2 separate regions of the Homo sapiens genome follow, and region 1 is linked to region 2. Evidence: fine-mapped expression QTL. A gene starts in region 2. The other region holds a variant in brackets. All regions are shown on one strand. Distances are from middle to middle.

Region 1 (5,392 bases), 65 kb before region 2:
ATTTGCCTTGCAAAATATTTTTCCATTGCAAAACAAACAAACAAAAAAAACCTTGTCATAGGATTCCATTAAATATCAAGTTTCCCTGCATATTTAAATATGGCAGATGTCATGTATTCCTTACCTGCATGTATTTCAGGCATGGATTTTTTCCCCCCATTTTTTGGCATGTGTGTTTTCTGGTCACACTTGTTGGGAGGATATGAGAAACACATTCCCTAGACTCATGAACGATCTCTGGCAGCAAATGAGCAGAGTGGCATTATAAAAACAATGCAATCCAAGACCAGATGGGACCTACCTTCTCCATGAACTTGAGTACCAGTGAGTGGCAGATTGGTCCAGGTGACATTTGGTTTGTTAGCCCTAGAATTCTCTGTTAACAAAGGCCACTATTTTGGCCTAAAAAATGGTAATATAACTTCTAAAAATCTACTTTGCTTTGGATTAATCTGGCTTCATTTAAATATAATGAAGTGCTATTTTCAATGAGTAAGATTCCTCTAATCCTTTCTTACTCAAAAGAAATTGGAATGAATCATAAAAAAACTGCAATACCAAGTTGAAGGTTTAAATAGTTAAAACAATCATATGTGCCATAAATACATTTTGGAGTTAAGTCAAATCAGTCAAGTAGTTGAAACAATTTTTTTAAATTAGATAAAATAAATTACATTGACATTTCTACACAGAACGGATGTTGAGTCATGAGAACGGACTAAACCGGGTCAATTATTCTCATGGCAAAGGGTGAATGTGTGATCTGGCTGCCTTACCTCCTATGGAGATGATGGCATCGAAGCCCTCATCCCTAAAGGGGAGATTAAGGTTGTCACATACCATGGCTTCACATCCTCTATTCCGGGCAATCTCTACCAGTGGCCCACAGTAGTCACAGCCCACGGTATGTACCTGGCTGTTCACTTTAAGATATTTTCCAGTCCCACAACCTATAAGAGAAAAACCTGCGTTACATGCTATCCTCAATGGAAAATGTGAAATACTTCATTTGTCTCATAACAAGAAATATAATTAACCTTTTATTTATTTATTTATTTTGAGACAGAGTCTCCCTCAGTCACCCAGGCTGGAGTGCAGTGGCGCAATCTCGGTTCACTGCAACCTCTGCCTCACGGGTTCAAGCAATTCTCTTGCCTTAGCCTCCCGAGTAGGTGGGATCATAGGCGCGTGCCACCATGACCGGATAATTTTGTATTTTTAGTAGAGACGGGTTTCTCCATGTTGGTCAGGTTGGTCTCGAACTCCCAACCTCAGGTGATCCGCCTGCCTCGGCCTCCCAAAGTGCTGGGATTACAGGTGCAAGCCACTGTGCCTGGCCAACTTTTTTTTTTTTTTTAACTAACCAAGACAGAATACAACATGGTGTGAAGGTATTCACAAAAGCAAAAGAAAAGCCTTCGGCGAATACTTACAGATTCTCATATAGAAGAGAGAAAGGCAATAGGAAAAAAATAACATTTATTGAATATTTAATGAGGTGATGTCCACAGGGCTCAGTACACTGGCGCAACCAAGGCACGTTAGCTGGTCCAAGGCAAGAAAGATAGTTCTAGTATCCGAGAGACCACGTGTAGCCTCTAAGCTCACATTCATATTTCATTTTGTATATACGCATGTTTCGGCTTTTATTCTCCTGTTGTCTCTCCAAAGATTCTTACCACTTGCTGACTGCAAAACAAACAACTGTCAACAACTTTTCTATTATTTATACACTAAAACATGCCTTTCAAATTTTTAAAATTTGAACTTGAATTAGAAAAGAATTTTTAACATTGTTTTTATCCAATCTCTATTCATTGCTACATTTAAAATGATCTCTATGGGTCCAGTATACAACTCAGATTATAAAAACTACTTTTTTTCTTAAATAGACAATTTTTGATATTCACTTTCCAGTAGCAGAGACCTAAGTAATTCAGGATTTACAAAGCCCAAATATTTAGATCATTGAGGTCTTACTGATGTTATGATTGAGGTAGGTAGTAACATGAATGAATAAACCACCTTGAAACAAAGCCTTCTACAGTCTAATACTTAGTATTATATTCTATCACAGATATATAATCTAATTACTTTCCAGAAATATTAAAAGAAATCATTAGAGCCTATATTTGTACTTATTGGCATTACTGATGAAATTTTTCTACCTGAAAAGATATCTACCACTATTCAAAGATGATTAGTTTGCTGCTTCTGAAATACATCAGGACACTAATAACCCCTCCTTACTAGGCACTTTCAAAATTATGATACAGTAAAAGCAAACTTAAGATTCATTAATGCCAGCTGAGACAGTGGAGAATATATGAATAAAAAATAAAATTTGGGGTCTGGCGCGGTGGCTCATGCCTATAATCCTAGCACTTTGGGAGGCTGTGGTGGGCGGATCACTTGAGGGCAGGAGTTCGAGACCAGTCTGGCCAACATGATGAAACCCCTCTCTACTAAAAATACAAAAATTAGCTGGGTGTGGTGGCAGGTACCTGTAATCCCAGTTACTCAGGAGGCTGAGGCAGAAAAAAATCACTTAAATTCAGGAGGTGGAGGTTGCAGTGAGCTGGGGTAGCATCACCTCACTCCAGCCTAGGTGATGACAGAGTTAGATTTTGTCTCAAAAAAGAAAAAGAAAACAATTCCAGGATTATTATTTCTACGTAAATGTGACCATATTATTTCTATGATATTATTTCTTTGATCTCGTAGCCACACTGTTCCCAATAATGATTATGAGAAAAAGTACCCTCTGTTTGAAGGCAATCATGGGGAAAATATAATTCACAAAGTATTTTAAAATTAAAATCCTGTGTATTTCAAAAGACGATGGTCCTATTTTAAGAAAAATAACCTTGCAATTCATTTGCTTTTTCATTGGCTCGAGGGATACTTTAGGAGAAATGAAAGG[G/C]AAAGTTACTTCAATGATATTAATAAAATCAGACTCATACATCTTTAGAATGAGGAGGGCCTGTTCAGAGAGCATTTTGTAATAAGAAGGAAACAGAGGTCTTTTCTCCTGACATGCTTCCAGTGCCCTAGAACTCTTGATTTGCCCCTATTCATTTCTAATGGCCTTCATGTTTAAATCTTGAATGTGAACAATAAAAGAATTTTAAATATTTTTTAATCCAAACTATTGTCTATTCATCAAACAGCTGATGACTTTAGCTAAGTGGAAAAACCTAGCAACAGAAACCATTTCCTTTAGAGGACAGTCATATTACCATCTGTCTTTTCTTCTCCTCATCCCTTTGAACTTCTTTCTTTTTCATTTCTTTCTTCTTTAACTTCAATTTCATTAAAATGCATCTTTCATTTTGCAATGAAAATATGACCCTATTTATTGAATAGTTTAAAAAATGTATATAGTACAAAATTCAAAAGATACAAATTGGCAAAAAGATATTTACTATAGATGTAGTTGTTGATTTGCACAGAGGTATTTAAAGAATATTATTTGTGAGACTTTTTTTTTTTTTTTCAGATAGGGTCTCACTATGCCACCCAGGCTAGAATGCAGTGGCACCATCTCGGCTCACTGCAACCTCTGCCTCCCAGACTCAATCTGTCCTCCTACCTCAGCCTCCCAAGTAGCTGAGACTACAGGCACGTGTATCATGCTTAGCTAATTATTTTTACTGTTGTTGTATTTTTTGTAGAGATGGGGTTTCACCATGTTTTCCAGGCTGGTCTCGAACTCCTGAGCTAAAAGATCTGCCCGCCACACCTCCCAAAGTGCTAGGATTACACGTGTGAGATACCGCGCCTGGCCTATCTGTAGTGTAATTTGTAGCGGCAAAATACAGCAAACAACATGTATTAAATGTTAATATGGCACTATTAGCATAGAATGCTAGGCAGGTTTTAATACTGGGTAGCTCTATAATAAATATAAATATGGAATGATTTCCTCAATATATTAAAAGTATAACAAAACCTAGGTGTATAATTATAATTGTTTTTATAGTATACTACCATTAGTGTAACCAAAAAAGGGAAATTACCCATCACACTCTCACAGGCACAAATACGCTTATTTTTACATAAAACATCTCAAAAAGATCATACAAGAAGCTAACAGCGTCAGAGGCCTCTGGTGTGGGTTGCTTGGCGCCAGGGACTGGGATGGGAGAAGATTTTACACTAAGCATTCTTTTGTACTTTGTTGCCGAACCGTATCAGTGGGTTACCTATTAAAATACTTTTACACATTTTGAACCATTTGTTCACATCCTTTCCCTATTTTTCTTGTGACTTGTTGATAGTTTTCCCTTTTTTTTTCCTTTGAATTTAATTCCTTCTGTTTGATACTCTGAGCCTTTTAACCAACGTCTTACCATTTCCTACACCTACCCCACCCGCTTCGACACCCCAGCCCCAGGTAACCACCATTTTAATCTCTCCTTCTATGAGTCCAACTGTTTTAGATCCCATGTATAAGTGAGATCACTGGGTATTTGTCTTTCTGTGCCTGGCTGATTTCACCTAGCATAATATCTTCCAGGTTCCTCCGTGTTGTCGCAAATGACAGGATGCTGGTCCTTTTTTTACAGTGATGTTGAAGAATGCTTAGTAGATTAAAAAAATTACCGGCCGGGCGCGGTGGCTCACGCCTGTAATCCCAGCACTTTGGGAGGCGAAGGTCGGTGGATCACAAAGTCAGGAGATCGACACCATCCTGGCTAACACGGTGAAACTCCGTCTCTACTAAAAATACAAAAAATTAGCTGGGCGTGGTGGCGGGCAACTGTAGTCCCAGCTACTAGGGAGGCTGAGGCAGGAGAATGGCGTGAACCCGGGAGGCGGAGCTTGCAGTGAGCCGAGATGGCGCCCCTGCACTCCAGCCTGGGCAACAGAGCAAGACTCCGTCTCAAAAAAGAAAAAAAAATTATCTAGATTTCTATGACATGTGTTGCAGATATTTTTACTTAGTTTGATTTTGGTCTTTTGACTTGAATTGTATGTCTGTCTAGATTTTTGTCTTGTGGAACTTTTCCATTTTTATAGGGTCAAAGTTATCTGTCAATATAGTTAATCCTCATAAATTACAGCTTCCATATTTGCAGTTAATGTACCTGCTGAAATTTATTTGTAACCCCAACGTCAATACTACAGCCTTGCATTGTCATTATTAGACTTAAATACTCACAGTGCAGCAAAATATTTGAGTCATCTGAGACCCACATACCCAGCCTCCTTTTTTCAGCTCCCATACCGTAATCAAGTGTCCTTTCCATAATCTATTTAGGGCCACAATTTCTCCATTTGTACAGTTTTTACTGGTGATTTTGCTCTTTCAAATGGCCTAAGCCTGGGGCTGAAATGCCGTCTAGTGTTCCTGAACATAAGAAGGCTGGGATGTCTCTGATGGACAAAA
Region 2 (5,392 bases):
AAACGTTGAACACGTGTTTTTCTGGTTTTTTGTTTGTTTGTTTTTGAAACGGAGTCTTGCCCTGTCACCCAGGCTGGAGTGCAGTGGTGCGATCTCGGCTCACTGCAAGCTCCGCCTCCCAGGTTCACGCCATTCTCCTGCCTCAGCCTCCCAAGTAGCGGGGACTACAGGCGCCTGCCACCATGCCCGGCTAAGTTTTTGTATTTTTAGTAGAGATGAGGTTTCACCGTGTTAGCCAGAATGGTCTCGATCTCCTGACCTCGTGATCCACCCGCCTTGGCCTCCCAAAGTGCTGGGATTACAGGCATGAGCCACCGTGCCTGGCCTTCTGTTTTTTTCTAATGTTACACTTAACTTCACTGTGTGTTGCTTAGTTAACTAAGTTTCTTTATCATTACATTTTATTATTATATCATGCATATAATTTATATACTTATATATTATATATTCATATGCAATGTAAATATATATGCAATATGAATATATATTCACATGTATTATATATTTTAATATATTTATATAATATAAATTATTGTATTATGTGTTATATACATACATATATTTATATATAACAGAATATATTATATATATTATATATACAGATGTTCCTTGAATTACGATGGTTCATTTACAATTTTTCAACTTTATGATGATTTGAAAGCAATGCATATTCACAAGAAGTTATACTTCTAGTACTCATACAACCATTGTCTTTCATTTTTACTACAGGATTCAATAAATTACATGAGATATTCAACACTTTATTATAAAATAGGCTTTGTCTTAGATGGTTTTGCCCAATTGCAGGTTAATGTAAGTGTTCTGAGCACATTTTAAGGCTAAGCTAAACCAAGCTATCATGTTCAGTAGGTTAGGTGTGTTAAATGCATTTTACAACACTTTCCATTTACAATGGGTTTATTAGGATGTAACCCCCATCGTAAGTCAAGGAGCAACAGTACTATATAATATTATTATGACCTTTCTCAGTTAACTCAGTTTCTTTATTAGTCAACTCCCTGGGTCTGGCACACACCTCTTAAGGCTACAGATGGCCGGCCATGATTCCTTGAATGCCTGCCTTACTCACTGCCTGTTTCTGAGCAAGGCAGCCCCAATGCTTCCTTATACATAGGCTGCACACTTTCCAAATGTGACCAATTCAATCAACCAAAGGAGCTATCTAGCATGTCCTGTGGACTACAAGGCTGTTGCCTAGCAAAGCATGAAATTTCTCCAGCTTATGTAATAAATACTGCACACCTGAAGTCTCTTAAGTTATGGCATTTAAGTAAGGAATTCACGTAAGTTCTTTTCCTAAAGCTTTTGACCATTATTTTACTTATCCTCATTGGCTATCACAGTCCTTAGCACTTAGAACTCAATGCACATATTTGCATTAATATGCATGTGTTGCCATAAGCCTCAAAATGTGCTGCATGATGCTTATGTCACCATTTCATTCACTTCAGCCTTGACCATCTATTTTATTCAAGGACGTGGTCTAAGGTACTGGCTCTTAGCCATTGAGGGTGCTTACCTATTATTAGCTTAATGGAGACTTACCAAAAAAATTACTGTATTTTTACCCACTTTTCTCCACCTTTCCAAGTCATCCCATATTTTTTTAGTGGTTTTAGCTAGTTTAGCATGATAACATCTTGATGCATAAGGAAGTGGAATCATCACCAGGCTGAATGGTAGACCCGGGTGAGCTTAACTTCAGATTGCAGGAAGAAATTGTGAGGTGTGTTCCAGTCTCTCAGACTGATCTTTAGGAGACTGGAGACAAAATATTCCAACAACAGGGATAGGCAAAGCTCAAGCTTTATGGCCTCATTGGTTTTAAAGGATTCCCCACAGTGACCCAGTCAGAATGGACTGAGAATCAAAGAGCTCACAGCTGTTTATTAGTCAGCACAATTTAGAGACAGACATGCTAACCAAGAGCTGTCTTTGTCATTTTGGGATGTTCACGGGCTGGAGTCCCAGTAGCCATCTCCTAAATCCTAAACCCTTCAGTTCTTCAGCCATTTTGCTGCTAGAAAGTGTGTAGCTGCTGCCTTTATCCAAGGAACTGATATCTTCCACACCTCTGAAACCTGGAAGACCTTCTCAAGGTACATAGGGAACTTCCTGGCATTGGGAATAGGATGGTTTCTTCTCTTATAGGGTTTTATGCACCAAAAAGAGAAATGCCACTTCTTCTCTTTCTTCCTGAACTTTTAAAAAAGTAGTCCTGCCAAGTCTCATCATTTCTCAAGCACCTGTCCTTGGTCCTCTGCTTTTCTCTCTATATAATCTCCCTAGACAACCTCATCCACCTTTCTAACTGCAAGGAAAAACGCTGTGTAGATTTCTCAAAATTCTGTTTCTCTGAATTGGTCTTCTCATAAACCTGCAGATCCCATGCTCTCATCTTGCTTGACATCTCCACCAGGGTGACATCAACACATTCGAACCTGAGGTCCTTCGCCCTCCGTGCACCTAAAGCAGCTGCCCTTTTCTTTCTTCTACAATCTCCGTCCTCCCAGTCACCTGGCACATTCTTAGACTCTGCTTCTTCTTGCCCTTCATAGCCCATGGGTGACCACCGTCTGACAATTTTGTATCTGTACTGCTTTTATTTATCAACTCTGCTCCCTTCTTATTGTTTCTATTCTAGTTCTTTATGTCCCATTACTTCCCACCTAGATGATTACACTAATTGCTTAATCTGCTCTTCTGATTGCCAAGGCCGTCTCTTCCATAAAAGATAATTCCAGACAAAAAGCTATTGTCTAGATTAATCTTTCTGTCCTAAGAATGTATCAGTTCTTGATCTAGATGCTTCTTACATTTATCACTAACCTTTGTATAAAGTATTATTTTATTCAACAAAGATTCATTGCTGAGCAGTCTGTGAGAAAAGCAATGGGGAGCAAAACAGATAAGATATCTACCCTCATGGCACTTATAGTCTCGTGGGATGACAAACATTAATCAACTAATCACAAATATCACAACTAAAATGTGCAACCCCAAATTGCAACACATACCTTGAAGGAAGACTGCAGAGTTGCTAGGAGAGCTCACAGGTTTCATCACTTTCCCAGAGGGAGGACTGTGTAGGATTCAGCCTTAGATCCTGAAAGTCTAGTCCAGAGCCCTGCACATGGAAGTACTGAATAAGTTGAAGGAACATATGCATCAAGAAAAAAAATTCAAAACAAACTAACAAAAAACACAAAAAATGAAAAAAGAATAAAACAAAGAAAAAAAGCCAAAAGAACATGTGCATCTACTTCTGACATATACATGTGTGATCTTTTCTGTACTACACAATACTGAATAAAACACACACCGGATGTTCCCTCAAATACTGACCTCAACACATAGCCACGTTAGCTGTTTGCTTTTGTTTCCATGACCACATGTCCATGGGGCATCTAATCTCTAAATACACCCTATTTTCTTTGCCAGCATGACAACATGTAGAAACTTGTTATCCTGGTAGCATTACCAAGAATAATTGTTGCTTTATGGTGAAAGTTTTTAGGCATGCTTTAATACTTTGCTGTTATCACCAACACAAACCCATCATCCCTCTTCCCTACAGTTTGGAATGTTTGCTGAAGATGTCAAACAACATTGTTTCTTTTGCCCCTTGGGAAACTGGTTCATCCTCCAGCTGTCCTTTGTGTCATTCGCCAGCTTCCTCTCCATTTCCAAAGCTGTTTGAGTATTACCTCTTCATCCTCATGCTCTTACCTTTTGTCTGTCACTCTTTCATCATTCTGCTATTATGATCACGTAATTTTTGGAGTCAGCTTTTCGCTGGAACACTGAGTGACACATATCACTTGGCTTATTTTATCTCTTTTTTTTTCTTTTTACAATACTATTAGATAATTTGTTTCAAGAAGCACTTTTGTGCATAGAATCTCAGGTCTGATTTGGGTGTGTGTGTTGTTTGTTTCCAGCTTTGAATGAACAAGGACTGGAAAAGATGAGCTTATTTGTCATGGTAGGAAAAGAAAAACTGCAAAAAAATACAATAAATTTCACCAACAGAGAATGTGTTATATAAATAAGGGAGCAACTACATGTTAAAAAATGCAGAGCCATGATCCTGAAGACAATTTAATGACCTGGAGATACAATGCAGTGTTAAATAAAAAGCAGTTTCACCCCAATATTTTAACATTATATAGTATATTTACATATATGTAGGGGAAAATGCTGGACAACCATACAAAAATGTGACTAGTGATTTTCTCTAGGTGATGGAATTTTATTTTCATATATATATATATATATATATATATACTTTTTTTTTTGAGAGAGGCAGACTTGCTCTGTCCCTCAGGCTGGAGTGCAGTGGTGCAATCTCAGCTCACTGTAATCTCTGACTCCCAGGTTCGAGTGATTCTCCTTCCTCAGCCTCCCAAGTAGCTGGAATTACAGGCGCGTGCCACCAGGCCTGGTTAATTTTTTTGTATTTTTAGTAGAGACAGGGTTTCACCATGTTGGTCAGGCTGGTTTCAAACTCCTGACCTCAGGTGATCCACCCACTTTGGCCCCCCAAAGCGCTGGGATTACAGGCATGAGCCACCACACCTGGCCTCTTCTATATATTTTTTAAAGGGAAGGGGATTCTATGCAGTTTGCGAGCAAAGCATATCCCTATTTATAGCCACAACTCTTGTCTCATAAATTTTATTGCTATTTCATCACTGCTCTTACCAATGAAATATGTGAGGAGCAGTACCAACATAGTACTCTTTCGTTCTCTTTATTATTATTTTAAATTCTCAAGTGCAAAAGTACGAGAAAGTCCAATTGTTTCAAGTGTAGAAGTCACAATGACCTCATCATTCTCACCGTAAAAAGCTATTTTATGTCTATGTCAAAAATAAATTACCTATTGTATTTACATCCTGTTTTTTAGGTGAAGGCAAATGTTGGCTCCCTGGCTAAGTGTCTTGATGAGATCTACCTATTAGTAATGGTAATCTTGGGTTTGTATGACAGTCAGCTCTAGGAAAAATGGAGAAATAGGGTCACTCTGTGTGTGTGTGTGTGTGTGTGTGTGTGCATTATGTGCACTTGTGCACTCACCTGTGCTCGTGTCATCCCTAGAGATTTGATTCTGGGGAAAACAAAGGGTGAATTTTGAGATAGTTGGTTTTTATTTTTCTCTGGAGATATATTTTGAACTTTTTGGGGGATACAAGTTTTGAGATATTTTCAAATAAATTAATACTTAAGATTAGATCCTAATGTATGTTACTAGAAGTTAACGCATTGTAAAATAGTTTCAGAAAGCTGTGCCATAAGAAAATTTTGTTCGAAAACTATTTGCAATTGTCAAAGCACAGCTCTTATCTTCTGAGAGCAAGCAAGACAATAC

Which allele goes with the higher level. Alleles are on the strand shown, and positions count from the first base shown. SD is a standard deviation of normalised expression in the study named.
With allele C in place of G in region 1, the expression in sun-exposed skin of the gene that starts at base 3,332 in region 2 is higher (small effect, 0.25 SD a copy in GTEx).

Evidence for each region. PIP is the estimated chance that this variant, and not a neighbour inherited with it, causes the effect. A credible set is the group of variants that fine-mapping cannot tell apart.
Region 1: its variant is the best candidate, but not a certain one, in a credible set for the expression of TRMT9B in sun-exposed skin (GTEx, PIP 0.55).

What each region holds. Positions count from the first base shown.
Region 1 is chr8:13,008,242-13,013,633 of GRCh38, reverse strand. TRMT9B (tRNA methyltransferase 9B (putative)) reads right to left here. Exons shown (of 5, transcript NM_020844.3): 4 at 777-950. All of the region lies in intron 4 of LOC124901889 (a long non-coding RNA gene), which reads left to right. Among named protein-coding and RNA genes, the nearest start is that of TRMT9B, 65 kb to the right of the region's middle. The variant G/C (reference allele first, on the strand shown) is at 2,924.
Region 2 is chr8:12,943,613-12,949,004 of GRCh38, reverse strand. TRMT9B (tRNA methyltransferase 9B (putative)) reads right to left here and starts at 3,332. Exons shown (of 5, transcript NM_020844.3): 1 at 3,039-3,332.